4 separate regions of the Homo sapiens genome follow, and all the other regions are linked to region 1. A link means that fine-mapping ties the variant in region 1 to the plasma level of a protein whose gene starts in the linked region. Region 1 holds a variant in brackets. A gene starts in each other region. All regions are shown on their reverse strands.

Evidence for each region. A credible set is the group of variants that fine-mapping cannot tell apart. PIP is the posterior inclusion probability: the model's chance that the variant is causal. The UK Biobank Pharma Proteomics Project read protein levels with antibody pairs (Olink). The fine-mapping took linkage between variants from a reference panel, not from the people measured, so its PIPs are less certain.
Region 2: APOF starts here. The variant in region 1 is the best candidate, but not a certain one, in a credible set for the plasma level of the APOF protein (UK Biobank, PIP 0.86).
Region 3: PTGR1 starts here. The variant in region 1 is the best candidate, but not a certain one, in a credible set for the plasma level of the PTGR1 protein (UK Biobank, PIP 0.90).
Region 4: it holds the start of ADH4, and the variant in region 1 is the best candidate, but not a certain one, in a credible set for the plasma level of the ADH4 protein (UK Biobank, PIP 0.72).

What each region holds. Positions count from the first base shown.
Region 1 is chr8:125,491,284-125,496,434 of GRCh38, reverse strand. All of the region lies in intron 2 of TRIB1AL (TRIB1 associated lncRNA), which reads right to left. Among named protein-coding and RNA genes, the nearest start is that of LINC02964, 26 kb to the left of the region's middle. The variant C/T (reference allele first, on the strand shown) is at 1,983.
Region 2 is chr12:56,360,502-56,365,652 of GRCh38, reverse strand. It overlaps APOF (apolipoprotein F), which reads left to right and starts at 2,796. Exons shown (of 2, transcript NM_001638.4): 1 at 2,796-2,923; 2 at 3,464-5,085. The coding sequence starts at 2,908. The coding sequence ends at 4,428. RefSeq lists an enhancer at 5,064-5,151.
Region 3 is chr9:111,596,626-111,601,776 of GRCh38, reverse strand. It overlaps PTGR1 (prostaglandin reductase 1), which reads left to right and starts at 2,130. Exons shown (of 10, transcript NM_001146108.2): 1 at 2,130-2,174; 2 at 4,345-4,460. The coding sequence starts at 4,355. RefSeq lists an enhancer at 1,707-2,279.
Region 4 is chr4:99,141,475-99,146,625 of GRCh38, reverse strand. ADH4 (alcohol dehydrogenase 4 (class II), pi polypeptide) reads left to right here and starts at 2,329. Exons shown (of 9, transcript NM_000670.5): 1 at 2,329-2,421; 2 at 3,846-3,947; 3 at 4,944-5,085. The coding sequence starts at 2,404. The region is part of intron 2 of LOC100507053 (a long non-coding RNA gene); the gene reads right to left. RefSeq lists a promoter at 2,035-2,357.

The DNA.
Region 1 (5,151 bases):
TCTACCTCCAAATTTCTTGTTTTGTGAGAAAAACAATCCCCTAATTATTTAAGCTTCTGGGGGCTGGGTTTTCTATTGCTTGCTGCTGAATGCACTTTTTTTTTTTTTCTTGAGACAGGGTCTCACTCTGTTACCCAGGTTGGAGTGCAGTGACATGATCACATCTCACCACAGCCTCTACCTCCCCAGGCTCAAGCAATCCTCCCACCTTAGCTGGAACCACAGGTGCATGCCACCACGCACAGCTATTTTTTTTTTTTTTTTTTTTTTTTTGTAGACATGGGGTTTTGCCATGTTGCTTAGGCTGGTCTCGAACTTCTGGACTCAAGCAATCTGCCTGCCTCGGCCTCCCAAAGTGCTGGAATTACAGGCTATGCCACCACACCTGGCCTGAATGCACTCTTAATACCCTATTCACATCCTAATCCTACACCCCAAACAAAACACACATACACCCCAAGTCCCACCTGAACACCACTGTGTAATACCATTGCCCCATGTAACACTCTCCCACTCCCTACACCCCCAAGAACAACCCACCCTAACGCCAGCATCCACTGTGTGCACCCACCCCTAATCCTAATGCTGGTTGAAGCATTTATTCTATTAGCCGCTGCCCTTTTACAAGTCCTCACCATTCAGGACCCAGTAGCCTCTTCCCTCGCCCTCTCCACTTCATAAACTGAGCTTCAGAAACCACTTTCACCATCATGCAATTACTTTGGGAAGAGAACTGACGTCTCCTGAAGGCCGGTGAGAGTCTAGTCACACTTCTCCTTTCTGAGTTAGGACAGATTTATCTACCTGAGATCACACAACTCTCTCATGATGCAAAGAAATTCTGCTCTATGGGGAAAACAAAGAAAACAAAACAACCACCCACCCCCTCCAAAAAAATTGCCTTTGCCTTCTCTTTAAAAACTTCATTTCAAAACACTGGACCATGTGGATCATTTGGCAAACATGGTGTTAGGCAATGCCTCCAGGGGCCAAGAAGAGACACTCAGGGAACATCCTCCATCCAGGGTGAGCTAATCAGGGTGACCAATGACTCTGAAGTGGCTGAGCCAGGCTCCCTCACTTAGATGGGTGCAAGGGAACTGGAGAAAGTGTCCAGACACTCAGACCCAGCACCCTTCTTTCTAAGGCCACAGTCCCTCATAATTAATTAACAGCCTGCCCTGAAGATAGCATGAGTTGCCGCTGCCCTTGGGGTGGAATGGGCGAAAGGCTCGGACCAGCCCCTCCCACCACTCTACAGCACAGTGTCTCACCACCAGTCACTCTGCCCTTTGCATCCAGATCCTGGCCTTCTATCTGTCCACATTACCTGTTACCCAGGGAGGAACCTACTCCACACACAGCTCTACCCTGCTGATGGAGAACTGGCCGCCGGGCACAGACCCAGACCAGGAAGCCTTGAAGAGAGGGGAGGAAGACCAGAGCAGACCAGGGCAGAGTTGCATGACCTTTGGCAAGGTACTCTGAAGTGATTATAAATCCCTTGATAGCTACTCAGGAGGCAAGATGAGACTGGGAGGGACCTGGAGGGTCTACAGTAATCAGGGAGGAGCTGTGCAGTGGGAGGGAAAGGAAAAAGCCCAGAAAATCTTCAGGAGCATCTCCTAAAGTTTGAAGTTCCTGGGGATTTGTGACATACAGAGACCAAAGAAAGATCTATGAGGTTGCACGTGGAAGGAAAAAAAAAAAAATCCTGGGAGAGCTCTGTAGTGTCAAGAGCAAAGAAATGAAGGGTTTGGGCCAGGTGTGGTGGCTCATGCCTGTAAGCCTAGCACTTCGGGAGGCTGAGGTGGGCGGATCACCTGAGATCAGCCTGGCCAACATGGTGAAACCCAGTCTCTACTAAAAACAAAAAATTAGCCGGGCATAGTGGCAGGCACGTGTAATCCCAGCTACTTGGGAGGCTGAGGCAGGAGAGTCGCTTGAACCCAGGAGGCAGAGGCCGCAGTGAGCCAAGATTG[C/T]GCCACTGCACTCCTGCCTGGGTGACATGGCGAGACTCCATCTCAAAAAAAAAAAAAAAAAAGAGAGAGAGAGAGAAATGCAGGATTTGCGAGATTGGCTGTGAGGAACAAAAACATCATTTGACAGTTGGAGAAATGGAGGCAGTATCAAAGTGGCTGAGGAGACAGTCACAGAGGTGGCTGGCCAGAGGCCATGAGGTCTCTTGAGCTGGGACAGTCAAACTTTGCTTAACAACAGCCCATGGTCAGAAACACTTTTTTTTTTTTTTTTCTTCTTTGAGACGGAGTCTCACTCTGTCGCCTGAGCTGGAGTACAATGGTGCTATCTCAGTTCACTGCAAGCTCTGCCTCCCAGGTCCACACCATTCTTCTGCCTCAGCCTCCCGAGTAGCTGGGACTACAGGCGCCCACCACCGTGCCCGGCTAATTTTTTGTATTTTTAGTAGAGACGGGTTTCACCGTGTTAGCCAGGATGGTCTCGATCTCCTGACCTCGTGACCCACCCACCTGGGCCTCTCAAAGTACTGGGATTGCAGGCGTGAGCCACCGTGCCCGGACCAGAAACACTTCTTCTGCAGTGACCCAATATCCACACATAGAGGGTGACTTGTGTGCACACACACACGTGCATATCTACATATAAAAGAAACAAATGGAGGAGATGGATTGGAGTTGGGGTTTGGGGTGTCTGTGGCAACTTCATCTGGCCCTTAAGGGGCAGGACGACTCCCCTCAACATCAGGGTTACACATGCAAGAACACAAAGAACATGCTCAGAACACTCCCCTGGGCGCTGTGTCTGTGTCTTTGTTCCTGTGGGTCATGCAACTGTATCTGGGAGCCTAGGAGTCCTCCTGTCCATGTCTGTGTATCTGTCTCTGTTTGCCCCTGTAGACCATAGGAAAAGAAACACAAACTTCTAGTGTGAAGACGTTTTCACAGTTCTTTCTCCATATGTCTGGGACCCTCTGTGTCATGGGGCTAAGCGGAGCCTGGGCAGAATTCTGGCTTTGCTCTGGAATCAGAAAACCTTAGAACTGAAAAAGACCTTGGAAACTCCTTGGCCCAAACACCCCCTTTTAGAAATGGAGAAAATATGATGCATATTATGGAAGAGCAGAGAAGCTTTGAGGAAGGACAAAAATATCTAGAATTGTGTAGGAATGCTTTTACACCGTTGGTGGGAGTGTAAACTAGTTCAGCCATTGTGGAAGACAGTGTGGTGATTCCTCAAGGATCTAGAACTAGAAATACCATTTGACCCAGCGATCCCATTACTGGGTATATACCCAAAGGATTATAAATCATGCTACTATAAAGACACATGCACATGTATGTTTATTGAGGCACTATTCACAATAGCAAAGACTTGGAACCAACCCAAATGTCCATCAATGATAGACTGGATTAAGAAAATGTGGCACATATACACCATGGAATACTATGCAGCCATAAAAAAGGATGAGTTCATGTCCTTTGTAGGGACATGGATGAAGCTGGAAACCATCATTCTGAGCAAACTATCACAAGGACAGAAAACCAAACACCACATGTTCTCACTCATAGGTGGGAACTGAACAATGAGAACACTTGGACACAGGGTGGGGAACATTACACACCAGGGCATGTCGTGGGGTGGGGGGAGGGGGGAGGGATAGCATTAGGAGATATACCTAATGTAAATGATGAGTTAATGGGTGCAGCACACCAACATGGCACATGTATACATAAGTAACAAACCTGCACCTTGTGCACATGTACCCTAGAACTTAAAAGTATAATAATAAAAAAAAAATCTAGAATTGTGTCTTCCAACACAGCAGCCACTAGCCACCTATGGCTGCTGAGCACTTAAAATTGACTAGTCCAGATTGAGATGTACTATAAGTACAAAATATACCCCAGACTTCAAAGACTTTATATGAAAAAGTACGTAAAATTGTTCAATAATTTTTACATTGATTGCATATTGAAATGATAACAATTTTGATCTATTAGGTTAAAATATATTATTGAAATTAATTTTACTTTTTAATTATGACTACCAGAAAATGTCAAATTATGTATGCCGCTCTCATTTCTGGCCCACTTTATATTTCTATGGGACACACTGACCAAGAGTCTTGCGTCAGACATTTAACGTCTCTGAGTCTCGATTTCACCAGGTATAAAATGGGTGTCGTGATGCTTATCTCTTGGAGTTGTTGTGAGGATTAATTGAGAAACCATGTGAAAGAGCTTTTAAATCTTAAGAAGCTGTTCAGATAAAGAGGTGGATATGGTGGTGGTGATGATGGTGATGGTGATGGTGGTGGTGGTGGTGGTGGTGGTGACGGTGGTTGTAACTCAGATCTTCGCCAAGAGGGAAGGGGTGAAAGGATAAAGGATTTAATAGTTTGACCTTCAGGAAAATACCCATAGGGGTCAGCCATATGCATGTGATCACCCACCCACCATAATTTTGGTGCTGGAGAAACAATGACCACTCCCAAACTCAGAACCATTACCCAGACCAAGCCTTTCAAAACCCCGAGTCACCATGTTCTTGCTCAGCAACCATACCACACCATCCTCCGCCTCTGCAGGTCCCTAGCCACCCCTCCAGCCTCCTCTGACACAGGAGGCTGTCTCCTCTCAGGGTAGCATGAAGCCCTTCTCCCCAGGGCACCCTTCCTTAGGAGGACAACTCCACATCTGAGTGGGATTTCCCAACAATGCTTTTTCTCTGCTCTTTGCCAGAGGCCCAGGGTCCCAGAGGGCTCCAGAAAGAGGGAGATAGCCCCAAATCTGGCCTGAGGGGACCAGCCCCTTCCTGGGACCATCACCCAGGGCAATCCCTGTTGCAACGGTGGTCTCGTAACAATCGCTTACAAACCCGGTTAGGCAAGCTGCTTTTGCGTGATGGGGCTATCTTGAGTAAACAGCATCCTCTGTCCCCTGCCGGTCACTTGCTCAAGACATTGCTGGACATTGCATTACAGCCACTGACACACGGAGTTTTGAAAATGAAAACAGGCCCTCTGGCTTATGATCAGATAGCATTTAACTCATTTATGATTGCGCCATGTTTTCCCAAGACCCAAGGGCCACAGAACGGATATTGTCACAAATGCAAACAGAAGATGCTGAGGACAGTTGGAGCCTCGGGTCACCTACAAAATGAGGCTTC
Region 2 (5,151 bases), not on the chromosome of region 1:
TCTCTACCAAAAATACAAAATTAGCCGGGAATGGTGGCACACGCCTGTAATCCCAGCTACTTGGGAGGCTGAGGCAGGAGAATCACTTGAACCTGGGAGGCGGAGGTTGCAGTGAGCTGAGATCGCGCCATTGCACTCCAGCCTGGTCAACAAGAGCGAAACTCCGTCTCAGAAAAAAAAAGAAAAGAAAAATGGTTTAGGGGTCCCAGAGATCACCAGCTATTCTGCCTTACCCTTTCTCCCCTCAAGAAGATACGGAGGACCTTTTCCTCAGCTCAAATATAGGTTTAGGGTAAAACCTTAGGATAGAAAAGATATGTCACTGGGTGCCGTGGCTCACGCCTGTAATCCCAACACTTTGGGAGGCCGAGGCAGGCAGATCATTCGAGGTCAGGAGTTTGAGACCAGCCTGACTGACATGGTGAAACTCCATCTCTACTAAAAATACAAAAACATTAGCTAGGCGTGGTGGCGCACACCTGTAGTCCCAGCTACTCGGGAGGCTGAGGCAAGAGAATCTCTTGAACCTGGGAAGTGGAGGTTGCAGTGAGCCAAGATCACGCCATTGCATTCCAGCCTGAGCAACAGAGTGAGACTGTCTCCAGAAAACAAAACAAAACAAAAATTTGCCAGGCATGGTGGTGCGTGCCTGTAATCCCAACTACTAGGGAGACTGAGACACAAGAATCGCTTGAACCCGGGATGTGGAGGTTGCAGTGAGCTGTGATCGTGCCACTGCACTCTACCCTGGGCAACAGAGTGAGACTGTGTCTCCAGAAAAAAAAAGGAAAAGAAAAAGAAAAAGAAAAAAAAAAAAAGATATGGGACAGGACTGCAGGGCCTAAAAGGGGAAAGGTCAGTTTGTCAGTATGGGTCAAAGGTGAGAAGGACAAAGTCTGGGCTGGGAAGAGATGCATAAATATTTGCAAATGTTTTGTCCTTCACTGTTTTGGAAGCCATCAACTTTCTGGTTTCCTTGTGATTCTGGGAAAGGGCAGATTAAAAACAGCAACAACAACAATAATAGTAATTCAGGTCATGAAGATACCAAAGCAAATGAGATGTTTGGACTGTTTTTTTCCTCTGACTTGTTTCTCCTCAAAATAGGAGGATCACCCACATCCTTTAAGAGTGAAGATGAGGTGTGCTCAGGGCAACCGAAGTTTCCAAGAGCTAAGACACTTTCTAGCTCTGGCCAGTCTTGGTGTCTCTTTGTCCTGAGCCTTTCTCCACTTCCCAACCTGAGCACTGCTTCCTTCCAGCAGGGCTGCTCTGCTGTCCCCCCATGGTCCAAGCTGTGCTGCTGCTTTGCTGTGTCCTGCTGTCCCTGGTGTCTGCCTTTCCAAGAAATGCTCAGAATGAGACTCTGACCCTCCAGCCATCTTTAACAGAGACTGGGCATCCATCAAACATGCTCTCCATTATTTGGAGAACATGGAGAGCCAGATTCCTCTCCCAGATCCCAGGATCTGCCAAGATCTCTTACACACAGCCCCCTCCCTAGCCCCTCTGCCTGAGTACCTGTCCAACTTAGCTCTGAGGGTGCCCTTGGAGGAGGTGGGCTGCCCAACTGAGGCCCATGTTCTGCAGTTTCAGATGCGAGGAAAGGATACCACTGAAACCCTCATCCGTGAGAGTCAAAAAGTTCAATGGGGAGGAAGGCAATACCAACATCATTGTGACGAATCTAGTAGTCCCTTAGGGAAGTGTGAATAAACCCAGCACCCAGCTGCCCATCCTGGGAAATGTATGGATGGTGGCAAATATACCCACTGGGGTAGCTGGCCTACCAGGTAGCTCAGATGGTGATTGAGTTTGCTGAGAAACCATCTCCCATGATGCTTGGTGTCACAGTTCAAAGTTTTGGGTGTCCACATCACCAAGAACTGCAGGTATGAGTCTTGGGAGCATATTGAAGAATTAGGCAAAAAGTTGAAGAAGCTCTCAAGATCATTTAAATTGTCCATGGACAGTGACAATATAATCTATCAAATGTTCCACAGCTATTCTGAAGTGCTTTGTGAGGAAAATGATCCAGGAATTGATCCCGGCTCATTTCAGCTATTCAATATCACATAAGTAATGAGTCTCCTTTCCCAGGACTGTATTCAAGGATGGCACACAGTAAGTAGTTAGAAATGTTGGAGACCACTTAGGACAGATGAATGCTCTTTATTTCACCTCTTCCCTTAAACACATATGTGACCAGTGTTAGCCTTGCCCCTCTCCACTTAGTAGGTGTCAGCTCCCCTCCTTTTTTTTTTTTAAGACGGAGTCTCACTCTGTCACCCAGGCTGGAGTGCAGTAGTGCGATCTTGGCTTACTGCAACCTCCACCTCCCGGGTTCAAGCAATTCTCCTGCCTCAGCCTCCTGAGTAGCTGGGACTACAGACGCCCACCACCACGCCTGGGTGTATATATATATATATATATATATATATTTTTTTTTTTTTAGTAGAGACAGGGTTTCACCATATTGGCCAGGCTGGTCTCGAACTCCTGACCTTGTGATCCGCCCGCCTTGGCCTCCCAAAGTGCTGGGATTACAGGCGTGAGCCACCATGCTCAGCCGCTAATTTAATTTTTAAAATGAAGAGAAATGAGAGTATCACAAACATCTCATCTTTCCTAATTCTGAATTTCCCTGGCTCCTATCATGAGCTTAGAGTGGGAATGTGGCAGGGACATACAGGAAATGCCAAAGAACAGGACTGTAGGCATAGAGGTTGAGTGTGTGACAAGGGGCACAAGGTTTGAGCAGCCAGTATAAATGGGCAAATATTTGCAGAGATTACATCCTTCACTGATCATAGGGGAAAGCAAATATCTCCTTTCCTCATGGGACACAGAACTAGGCAGAACAGGATCAGGAAGCGATCAAACCTACCAAGGCAGTCTCACTTCTCAATGACTGGACTGTGTGGTAATTTGGGGTCCCTATATATGGGTGGAAATAAAACAGAAGTCCCTGGTGACCTGTAAATGGGGGAGACCAAGTGGGAGCAACTGGGGTGCATTTCCTATTTCCTAGGCCTTTACCTAAAAAGAACAGAAGCTTGGGGCCAGGCGCGGTGGCTCACATCTGGAAGCCTATCACTTTGGGAGGCGGAGGTGGAAGGATCACTTGAGCCCAAAGTTCAGAACTAGGCTGGGCCAGATGGCAAAACCACGTCTCTACAAAAAATTTAAAAATTAGCTGGGCATGGTGTCACGCACCTGTAGTCCCAGCTGCTTGGGAGGCTGAGGCAGGAGGATCCCTCGAGCCCAGGAATTCAAGGCAGCAGTGATTTGTGATCCCATCACTGCACTCTAGTCTGGGCAACAGAGCAAGACCCTGTCTCTAAAAAGAAAGTACAAAAGCTTGGAAGCAGGTGATGTATGAGGTGTCCCCCTAACTGAGTCTTGGGCTCACCATCGCCCTTAGGGAAATGGTTTGTATGTTTCGGATTTCTCCCCTTTCTAGGGTACTCTGCTCCAGACATGCGTGGCCTCAGACTCATCATGATACCAGTTGAGCTGCTACTTTGCTACCTCCTGCTGCACCCTGTGGATGCCACTTCATATGGAAAGCAGACAAATGTCTTGATGCACTTTCCCTTGTCCTTGGAATCCCAGACACCCTCCTCAGACCCCTTGTCCTGCCAATTTCTGCACCCAAAGTCACTGCCTGGTTTCAGCCACATGGCCCCTCTACCCAAGTTCTTGGTAAGCCTGGCTCTAAGGAATGCCCTGGAGGAAGCTGGTTGTCAGGCTGATGTTTGGGCTCTACAGCTACAGCTCTACCGCCAGGGTGGTGTGAATGCTACACAGGTCCTCATCCAGCATCTTCGAGGGCTCCAGAAAGGCAGAAGCACAGAGAGGAACGTGTCAGTGGAAGCCCTGGCCTCTGCTCTGCAGCTGTTAGCCAGGGAGCAGCAAAGCACAGGAAGGGTCGGGCGCTCCCTCCCGACAGAGGACTGTGAGAATGAGAAGGAGCAAGCTGTGCACAATGTAGTCCAGCTGCTGCCAGGAGTGGGAACCTTCTACAACCTGGGCACAGCTTTGTATTATGCTACTCAAAACTGCCTGGGCAAGGCCAGGGAACGAGGCCGAGATGGGGCCATAGATCTGGGATATGACCTTCTGATGACCATGGCTGGGATGTCAGGGGGGCCTATGGGTCTAGCGATCAGTGCTGCACTTAAACCTGCATTAAGGTCTGGGGTTCAGCAGTTGATCCAGTATTACCAAGATCAGAAAGACGCAAACATCTCTCAGCCGGAGACCACCAAGGAGGGTTTGAGGGCCATCTCAGATGTGAGTGACTTGGAAGAAACAACTACTCTGGCTTCTTTCATATCAGAAGTAGTAAGTTCAGCTCCCTACTGGGGGTGGGCCATAATCAAGAGCTATGACTTAGATCCTGGGGCTGGGAGTCTTGAGATATAAAAGAATGTGGTAACCACAGAATTAATAACTGTACTACCCTGACAAGCTATATACATGTCTTCAAAATTTTAATCTGATTTATCCAGGAGGAAGGCTGTACAGTAAAACGTAAGAACGTAAATGTTTGGGTGTTGAAGTCACAGGGTTTGGTTTCGAATCTAGGCTCCACTTGTTAGAGCCTCGGTGATCACTGAATAGTAACTTCTTTCTTGAACTAAGATCAGTTTTGAAGTTTCTAAAGGAGATAGAATGATTTTAACCTCAATGAGTTGCCCTGTAAATTTAAAATGATACAATGAATCTAAAATGCTTATCACAGTACTTTCAATAAATAGCTATTAGCCAGGTGCGGTGGCTCACGCCTGTAATCCCAGCACTGTGAGAGGCTGAGGCGGGATGATCACCTGAGGTCAGGAGTTCAAGATCAGCCTGGGCAACATGGCGAAACCCCGTCTCTACAATAAATACAAAAAATTATCCTGGCGGAGTTATGCACGCTTGTAGTCCCAACTACCTGGGAGGCTGAGGCGGGAGAATCACCTGAGCCTGGGAGGTCGAGGCTGCAGCGAGCCGAGATCGCGCCGCTGCATTCCAGCCTGGGTGACAGAGCGAGACCATGTCTCAAAAAATAAAAATAAAAAAAAATTGTTTTCATTACCTCAGCCCTCCTCTTCCTATCCCAAGGCGTCGAAATTCCGGTCCCACCCCTTCCCATGGAGCCCT
Region 3 (5,151 bases), not on the chromosome of region 1:
TATCTGTATCTTCAATTTAAGGACAAGTGAGTAAATATGTGAGCCACTCTGTGTTTCTGGCACTTTTTTCTCTTATTCTTACTTTGCAAAGACTTTTTATGCCTGCAATTTTATTAACACTTCTAATATCCAAAAGAAACAGTGATTCTGTAACAAGTTATCTTAAAAGAAAAAAAAAAGAGAGAAGCAGAATGCGATATGTAACCCAATACCGTTTCTATAAATTAAATGTATATGACCACAGTGCACATTATGTAAGAACATGGAAAAAAAAACTGTATGCAAATCAAATACATCACAGTAGTTACCTATAGTAGGAGGAGAAAAGCAGGAAATTGAGTTTTTTTGGTTTTCTTTTGAGACGGGATCTCACTTAGACACCCAGTCTAGAGTGCAGTGCCACGATCGCAGCTCGCTGCAGCCTCCACCTCCCAGGTTAAAGCTATGTTGCCCACGCAAGTCTTGAATGCTTGGCCTCAAGTGGTCCTTTTGTCTCAGACTCCAAAAGTGCTAGGATTACAGGCATGAGCCACAGCACCCAGCCTGGGAATGGAGTTTTGTTTTATATTAAGTTACATAAATTAATGAGAAGGGAGAGAGTGAGAAAGAAAGAATTTGGCAGACCAGTGGGGATAAAGTGCCACCAACTCTGATTAGTGTGAAGAATTCAACTCTCGGCATTGTGTTTTTAGGGTCCATCCAAGTTGCTTTATGTACATGGAACCCAGTGCTTCTGATGCTGTGTATATCCTGTGGCATGCGTCCACCACGCTTGGTCCACACACTCTGTTATGGGCTGAACTGTGTCTTCCCCAATTTCATGTGTTAAAATCCCCAAGTCCCAGTACTCAGAATGTAACTGTATTTGTAGATAGGGCCTTTAAAGAGGTAATTAAGGTTACATGAGGCCATATTAGTGAGCCCTAATCCATTTGACAGTATTTGAAGACAAGGCCTTCAAAGACGTGTTTAAGTTAAACGGAGGCTGACAAGTGGGGCTCTAATCCAATATGGCGGGTATCCTTACAAGGAGAGACATTGAGCCAGGTGTGGTGGTGGGCCTGTAATCCCAGCTTCTAGGGAGGCTGAAGGAGGATCACCTGAGTCCAGGAGTTCAAGGCTGCAATGAGCTATGATGCCCACCATTGCACTCCAGCCTGGGTGACAGAGCAAGACCTCAAAATAATTAAAATTAAATAAATAAATTAAAGACATTGAATCTTCACAATGACTGGAAGTTAGGCATTCTTCTTATCCCCATCTTGCAGATGGCTGAACTGAGTGAGGCAAGGAGAAGGTAAGTAAGTCTTTGAAAGCTACACCACTAGTAAGTGGCAGGTGCAGGCTTCGAACCTGCAGTCGTCTAATACCAACGACTTAGCTTCACGTTCAACCCCTGCCTGAGACCACCTCTCCTTGCAGAAGCCAGGTCAAGGCCTGATGTTTGCTAGGGTGTGATGGGTGGGGTGCCTCAGTGGCAAGAGTGCTCACTCCTGCCTGGGGGAGTCTGGCAAGGGTTCACAGAGGTGACCTTGAATTGGCTGGTGGAAGGCGAGTAGGTGTTCAGCAGGCGGACTGGGGACAGACAGGCAGGGTGTCTGCACCGCAGCCCTGGGCGAAAGCTTGCACTGCGGGCAAGCGGCAGGGCTGACGGGGAGCCCAGGGATCGGAGCCAGCACCGGGGGCTTATTAGGGCTGCGGCCGCCCCAGGCCCTGCCTTTGGACCCTTCCGGCCTGCTTGGCAGATGCCACGGTTGGTTCCCCCACGGGGCATATTTCCGCCGGGCTCCAACTTAGGACCCCAGGCGGAGGTCCAGTGTCAGCTGGACAAAGCTCTGTTAGGAATTTTCCTATCAGGAGTCCCTAACCCCCTACACGCACACACACGGGCGCGCGGGCGCGCACGCACACACACGCACACATGCACACATACGCGCGCGCACATGCACATAGGCACACAGAGATACGCGCACACACACACACAAACGCACTCAGATTTCCCGGACCCTGGTTTTCCTCCTGTGACCCTTTCGGGGCCGGGCTCTCACCCTAAAGAAGCAGCCCCGCCCTGGGGTGGCCCCACCCTCTCTTGGGACCTGTCATAAGTCGGACCCCGGGCGCCCGGCTGCGCAGTCCCAGCCGCCTTCCCCAGGCAGTGGAACCTTCGGGCTCCTGTAAGTAGACCTCCTGCTTTCTTTCCTTCCCTTTTCTCCCTCCTCTAACCCCCTTGCTTTCTTCCTGCCAAGTTTCTAGACGCCCCAGTGGAGGAGGTTTGCTCTTAGACCTCCTCCCCTTACGTCGAAATGACCGCTGGGTCTTGCACTCGGAGGATCTTGGGAGCCGACGTCCCGACGCCTCCCGCCCCCGCAGTTCCTTGGAGAGCTTGGAGCCGCGCGCCGGAGGGAATAGGAAAGCTTGGTTACAACCCGGGACACCCGGTAGCTTCCTGCACCCGGGAGGGGGCTGGCCAGGGAACTTGCTGGACTGCACAACTGGGGGAGGGTAGAAGAAGAAAGATCGGGGTGGGGATTCGGGAATGGGCAAGCGGGCGGCGGGCGGCGGGAGGCGAGGGTGGGAGCAAAGGGCGAGCGGGCAAAGGCCGGGCGCCGCGCCAGGCCCCCTCCTCGGGCGGGCGAGACTTTCCCGGGACCTGGCCCCTCTGCGGCCAGACCCTTTCCAGGAGGGCTTCTGGACTTGTAGCGAGTTTGGAAGCCCAGCGGTTGCTTTTTTGGGGAAAGGGACAAAGATGTGTGAACTCTAAAGAAGTTGAACTCATAGAAATAACGACTAGAATGATGGTTGCCAGAGGCTGGGAGCGGGTTCGGGGGGGAATGGGGGCTTGTTGGCCAAAGGGTACGAAGTTCAGAGACGAGAGGAGTAGGTTCTGAGATCTGTTGCACAGCAGAGTGACTAGAGCCAATAATGTGTATTTCGAAATAACAGAGTAAACTGCAAATGTCTCACCGTAAAAATGATACGTAGGGCCTGGCGCGGTGGCTCACGCCTGTAATCCCAGCACTATGGAAGGTCGAGGCGGGCGAATCATTTGAGCTCAGGAGTTCTAGACCAGTCTGGCCAACATGGGGAAACCCCGTCTCTACTAAAAGTACAAAAATTAGCTGGGCGTGGTGGCGGGCGCCTGTAATCCCAGCTACTCAGGAGGCTGAGACAGGAGAACCGCTTGAACCCGGGAGACGGAGGTTGCAGTGAGCTGAGATCGCGCCATTGCACTTCAGCCTGGGCGACAGAGCGAGACTCCGTCACAAAAAAAGTCTTAATTTTAAAAAAAGAAAAGAAGGAACAACCCCGGGCTGCAGATCAGACCGCCCCCCTGGCTCCCTCGCAATGCGGGAGTGCTCCCTCCAGGTCACCGTGTCCCCTCCCGCGGCACCGGTAGGGGAGCTGGGGAGATCACTGGCAGCTCCAAATGGTTTCGTAACTGGATTGTTTGTAGCGGATGCACCCGCGGGAAGGCGCAGGTCCCAAGTGATTCGGCAGAGTTCAGTCCAAGCAGAACATCCTGAACCCCCAGCTCGGGGCAGCCTTCATCATCTTCCCTTGCTTTGGTGCAGCGTTTCAGCTCAAAATCGGTTTGGTGTGGAGTTTAAACTCAAATCCCTACTGGGCCAAAGAAAATTCGCACCCGATGGCTGAGTGCAAGTGGTTCACACCTGTAATCCCAGCACTTTGGGAGACCGAGGCGGGCGGATCGCCTAGGCAACACAGTGAGGCTCCTCTCTACAAGAAAAGAGAGAAAAAAAAGTATTTAAAAAAAAAAAAAACGCACCTGAAAATGGGGCGGAGCAGCGGCGCCCTCCGGTGGTTTTCAGGAGTTCTGAGACTGCCTTGAAATGCGTGGCTGTTTCCATCTGAAAGAGGTGCATGGACTTCTATCTATTGGGTTCTTTGTGTTTGATGCTTTTTCTTAGAATTCACTCCATGTGAGATGAGAAACGGAATGGAATATTCGCACTTCCGGTAACTGTTCAGTGCCGTAGAGAAACTCTAGCCTAGCAGTGGCTGGGAAGAATTTCTTTGTTGTTTTATATTTTTTCCTTGTCTTGAAGATTTCTTTAAACCTCAGTTTCCTCATCCGTACACTGGCAATGATACTAATGTCTATCTTATAGGGAAGTTATAAGGATAAAATGAGGTAATCTATATGAAGTGCTTAGCACAGCACCAGAAACATAGTAAATGTTAAATGAATGTGGTTGGCATGATATGATAATGATGGGATTTGAGGATATTGTAATTGTGCTGTCTGGTCTCAGTTTGACGGCTAGAGAACTGTTAGAATGCAGTCACTTCATGGCAGTTGACTACATATTTACTGTGTTCTAGGAGCTTCAGGATGGTTCGTACTAAGACATGGACCCTGAAGAAGCACTTTGTTGGCTATCCTACTAATAGTGACTTTGAGTTGAAGACAGCTGAGCTCCCACCCTTAAAAAATGGAGGTAAGTCATACTAAAAATATTTCAGAGTTGGAAGGGACTGTATCAGTTAGCTTTTGCTGCATAACAAACTACCCCAAAGTTTAGTGACTTTAAGCAACAACGGTTTATTAGTTCACAATTCTTTGGGTTGGCAATTTGGGCTGAGTTAAGCTGGGTGGTTCTTCTTAGGTCTCATCTGGGGTAAATGGTTAATTTAGGATGGGCCTTGCTCACATGTCTGCTGATTAGCAGGCTTTCTGTTGGGGTGCATGCCTTAGTTCTCATCTATGTGGCCTTTCTAGCAGGCTAGCTTGAGCTCTATTCTTATAGTGGCCCCATAGATCTAGAGCAGCAGTAGTTGGCAAGCTCCAATGTGCAAGCACTTTCTCTTTTTTTTTTTTTTTTTTTTTTGAGACAGAGTCTTGCTCTGTTGCCCAGGTTGGAGTGCAGTGGCATGATTTTGGCTCACTGCAACCTCTGCCTTCTGGGTCCAAGCGATTCTCTTGCCTCAGCCTCCTGAGTAGCTGGGATTACAGGTGTGCGCCACCATGCCCCCCTAATTTTTGTATTTTTTCTGAGATGGAGTCTTGCTCTGTCACCCAGGCTGGATTGCAGTGGAGCAATCTCGGCTCACTGCAACCTTTGCCTCCCAGGTTCAAGCAATTCTCCCTGCCTCAGCCACCTGAGTAGCTGGGATTACAGGCGCCCACCA
Region 4 (5,151 bases), not on the chromosome of region 1:
TATCAAGCATTCAGAAAAGAGTGTTAATTCCAATTGTGTTTCCAAGGTCATTATTCAATTTGACCAGCATTTAGTAATCACCTAGTATTTTTTCGGGGCTCTGAAGTATACTCTTCAGGATATGAAATGTAAATAAAATACAATCTCTACAGTTAAGGAGGCTACAGGTAGGAAACAGGTTGTCAAAAAAGGCACAAGTAACAGAACATGAGACAAAATGAAGCAAAACTTACTTTGCTTCATTTGCCTATTTATGTATAAGCCTGAAGAGTCATGCAAACACGAGTGCTACAGAGATTCAAAAAGGGAAAAGACCATATCCAAATAGAAAGAGTGGGGATGCAAGATAGGAACCTGGAGACACACCTTAAGGAAATATAAGGGGTTAGTTGGCCACAGTAGATGTTCCAATCAGAGCAAACTAAAAAAAACTCATGCATTGCATTGGGGAAAACAGTTTCAATAGAACAAGGAGATGGAAATCAAACAAGTTGAGTGAAATGTGGTTAGTGAAAAAGTGGAAACGAGTATAAATTACGCTTTCTAAAAGTTTAATAGAACAACTGAAATATTTAAGAGATGGTGGAATACTAGGGGACTATTAAAAGAAATAATGTAGATAATGAAAACACACTGCCAGGGAAAGATAGTAAAAATGTCATTAAATTTCTTAAAACACATGGAACACAGAATACTTGCATGCACGTAATATCAAGCTTCAAGATATGTAAAGTAAAAAAAAGTACTCTCAGAAATTAACAAACTCATAATAATGATGTATTTTTGTTTCTTTTTATTTTTAGTTATTATTTAAAATAATTTTATTGTTATTTATTCATTTTTATTTTTAATTTTAATATGTACAGAAAGAATTGTACATATTTGTGAAGTACCTATGATACTTCAGTACACACATACAACGTGTAATGATAATTAGAGTAATCATAATGATTTCTAAACATCTCTCAGTAGTTAATAGAATAAGCACAACAAAATCAGTATGAGCTGACTCCAGTACAGGACTGGTGCTTATCCTTATTAATAATCAGATCAATACAAATTAAAAACAGAATTAGATATCTTTACACACGACCAGATTAAGAAGATTTTTAAAGTCTGCCAATTCCAAGCATGGGTGAGGATGTGGAGCAACGAGGACTCTCATACACTGCTGCTGGTAGGTGAAGCCATTCTGTGAAATTCCTTGGCCTTGCCTATTAAAGTTGAAGACTTTAATTCCACTCCTAGTCAAAAAATATTTAACAACCAGTACAGAAAGGAAACTCCATTTCTCACAAATGGCCATATACATGTGACTCCAGGGGAGTTCTGACCCACAGCACTGGAGGCCACAGCCACAGGAGGTCAGATGGACACTAGGTATTTATCTACTGGGGTTCCAGGGACTACTCTGTTTTAGGGGGACAGCCAGAGACCCAGAACCATCAGGGCTGGTTGATGGACTCACACATCAGGTGGGACAAAAAGAGTAGCTCCTTAGCAGTGACTAAATAGGGGCCCCCAGGGCTGCAACAGAGTTGAAGGGGAACTTGGGGATTTGGGATAGTGACTTTTTACCAAGCTGAATAAAAATACTTCAATATTTTGATAATTGGCATGGCCTTCATAGTGGGTACTGGCTGAATATCAGCTCTGAATTTTCTTTAAGGCAACTCAAGCATATGTGCAACCAAGTACATGAAAAGAATTTGTATGTAACCACTAATTCATCATAAGCAAAGAGGAAAAAAAACAGCAAAAAGGAAAATGGATGAATAAATTATGTTCAATTCATACACTGGAATATTCTAGAGTAATGAAAATAAGCTACAGCCACAGGCAATGTGAATGATTCTCACATAGAGTAGAGGGGAGAAAAAAGACATGAAACAATACATACACTATGATTCCATTCATAAAAAGGCTTTGCTAGATTAAACTATTGGATAGAGAAGCTTAAATAGGTAGTAAACCACTAAATATGCAAGGAAGTGATTATCAGGGTTGTGAAGGAGAAGAACAGGTAAGTTAAATGGGCGATTCTGAGGAGTAGAAATTTCCTTTACTTCATAATTATTTGTTAATTCATCTTTATATGTTTAATGGGCTTTTCTCTATTATTTTATATTTTTCAATAAAAGAAAAAAGAATTTAAAAAATCTTGGAGCTCACTGGGAGCAATGAGGTTTGCAGCTGAAGTCCAATAGTACAAATGATGTGGTAAGAGGCCGGCAGGGCTGTGAATTACAGCAACAAAGGAGAAAAGGAAGTGATTGGAGAATTAAGCAACATGAATGGTATTTATTCAAAGACAGCTCATTATAGGACACGGAACTCCCTGGGTAGGAGTTTGAAGCTTTCTTAACTCAGAAAGAAACTTCCAACACAGTTTCCCAAAGAAAAATGGGCACCAAGGGCAAAGTAAGCAAGTAAGCTGTATCTTTGTTCAGTTTGTGCTTTTCTGTGTCCTTGTATGTTTGGCTAAAAGGAGCTTCCTTCAGGAACTCAGGAAGCAGTGACTTACAGTTGATCAAAAGGATATGAGTGACCCCTATGCCAGGAATTTATTCTAGGGAAATTAACTGTGGATTGCCAAAATGTTTATTAGAAGGGTGTTCAGTTAATATTAATATTATTTAAATGGCCAAAAGAAGAGAGATTTAAGTAACTGTGCTGTAACCATAAAATATAATATGCATATGTTACAAATAATGTTGCAGGAGAATATGGGAAAATGTTCACAGTATATTAATAGTAGAAAAAGTATATTACAAAATACTATGGACAATGTATCTTATTTGGGGATACTCGAAGAATCTGCATCAAAAGCATAAAGTGGGTGATGAGCTTACAGATGAATCTTATTCTATTTTTTGTCTTTAAAAACTTGATAGGCCTTGGCATTTTGAAACTTCCTGTTAATTAATATATACTTCATTTGAAACAAAATAAATAATATTCAAAAACATAATTCAAAATTATGTAACTATTGAAAAATATACATTAATGTGGTCAAAGACTTTGGGAAAAGTATACCAAATGTAAGCATAGTAGTGTTAGAACAGAAGATTATAGGTTTGTTTCTTTCTACTTTCTTTCAATGTTGCTTATATTTGAAATTAAAAATATAATTTGAGGCTAGAAAAAATTGGGGTTATAGAATCCTAAATATTTAATTTCTGTTCATTCATCTTTACCCAAATTCTTACAATTAGATGAAATTTTTATTTAATTTATATCCTACAGATAAATTTAATAATGATGTAAGCCTCATTTCTCAGACTTTTAATGAATTCTCTGGGGATATTGTTCAAATGCAGATTTTGATTTAGTGGATTTGAGGCAGGGCTTTCATCTCTAACAAATTCCCAAGTGATGTGAATAAATGCTTGTCCGAGGACCACACTTCGAGTTGCAGAGATGTAAAACACATCTATTCTCCAGCAATTATCTGACTCAGGTAATTCAGAGGTGATTTCAAACAGTTCACTCAATAGATTTTTATAGGCCATCTACCTTATTCAAACTCCATAAATCTATTCTCTCTGTTATAGAGGGAAAAACTTGAGACATTATATCAAGGTAAACTTTAATACACCTGTTTTTTTTTCAAGAAATAAAAAATGTAATGACTATAATGTAGAATTTAACTTCTTATTTTTCTTTAAGATCCCTTGTCTTTAAAATAATATCTATAAGATCCAGCTACAAACTCTTTAACTCTTTGTCATGAAATTACAGTATCAATATATTCTAATTTTTTCTCATGATCTCCTCTCTCCTACCCCCAACCCTGTCAAAATCTCTATCTCTATCTCCCTCTTCCTTTTCTTTCTCTCTTTCAGGTTATTAAATGCAAAGCAGCCATCGCCTGGGAAGCAGGCAAGCCCCTTTGCATTGAAGAGGTTGAAGTAGCTCCCCCCAAGGCTCATGAAGTTCGCATTCAGGTAAGTGGAGACTTTCCTTGGGTGGGAACAGACAGGGCCCCAAGTGGAGACCTGGCTTCTGTCAGGTCAATCCTCTGTGCTATGATTCAGAGGCCTTGGAGTTTCTAGTACAGGGAAGCTGTATTTTTAGATTCAGTCAAAAACAGGCATTATCCCAAAAAGGAATAAATCATCCATTATTTTAGTAATTTTCAAATAATGGGCTTAAAATTTAATTGATCTTAACATTAATCATTTACCCTAAGAATCAGACAAAGGAATTCACTTTGGATTTGAATTAGTTAGGTTTTCTTTTTGCTTTCCAATTGCTAATTATTTGAAAGTGTTATTAAAAGGAAGATAGACAATTTGATCGAAAACAAGACAGAAGAAAAAACCTGACGTGCTGCCCTAGGCAGCCGAAGGGTCCTGGGTATCCAGAGGAAGGGACAGGAGTAGGTCACAGGGAGAAGAGAGTGCATGGAATGGAGTGAGATCACTGATGGCAAGTTTGGACAATTTCCCCATTTTTCCCAAGCTGACCAGGCTTATATTTTCCTTGAGGACCCCCACATTAAGAGTCTGTACATGAGAGTGAATGGGACATTCTCACTGACAGAACCTTAAAGAAGAATATAGGTATACATTGGTAATTAATTCAGACAATCCTTGATTTGATATTGTTCTCTCAACTGTAAAAGGTGTATTACCTCAACTTCATTTCAATAAGCCCTATTACCTTTGATTTTTTCCTCTCCTGGAGGCAATAATTGCCAATCCTATCTCTTTTATGATTTTCTGACAACAGCAAAAGGTAGAAAACAAAGATGCATTATAAGAGGAAAATAATCTAACCCAGTATATTTTTATTGGTTCTTTTTTCAAAAGGTGATTCTTTTATTGAGTTCTAGAAGTCTTATAAAGTTTTAAAATGATATCAAGCCTAATCTTATATGTAACATCCAGCCCAATAATATAGTTGCAGAAACACAATTAAAGTCTGTGATTGCCTTGTAGATCATTGCTACCTCTCTGTGCCATACTGATGCCACTGTTATCGATTCTAAATTTGAGGGCCTAGCTTTCCCAGTGATCGTTGGCCATGAGGCTGCAGGTATTGTGGAAAGTATTGGGCCAGGAGTGACCAACGTCAAACCAGGTATTTTATTTTATTCAGAAAAAATGGAAATGTCACAATATTTCAGAGATAATTATTGATAGAGTC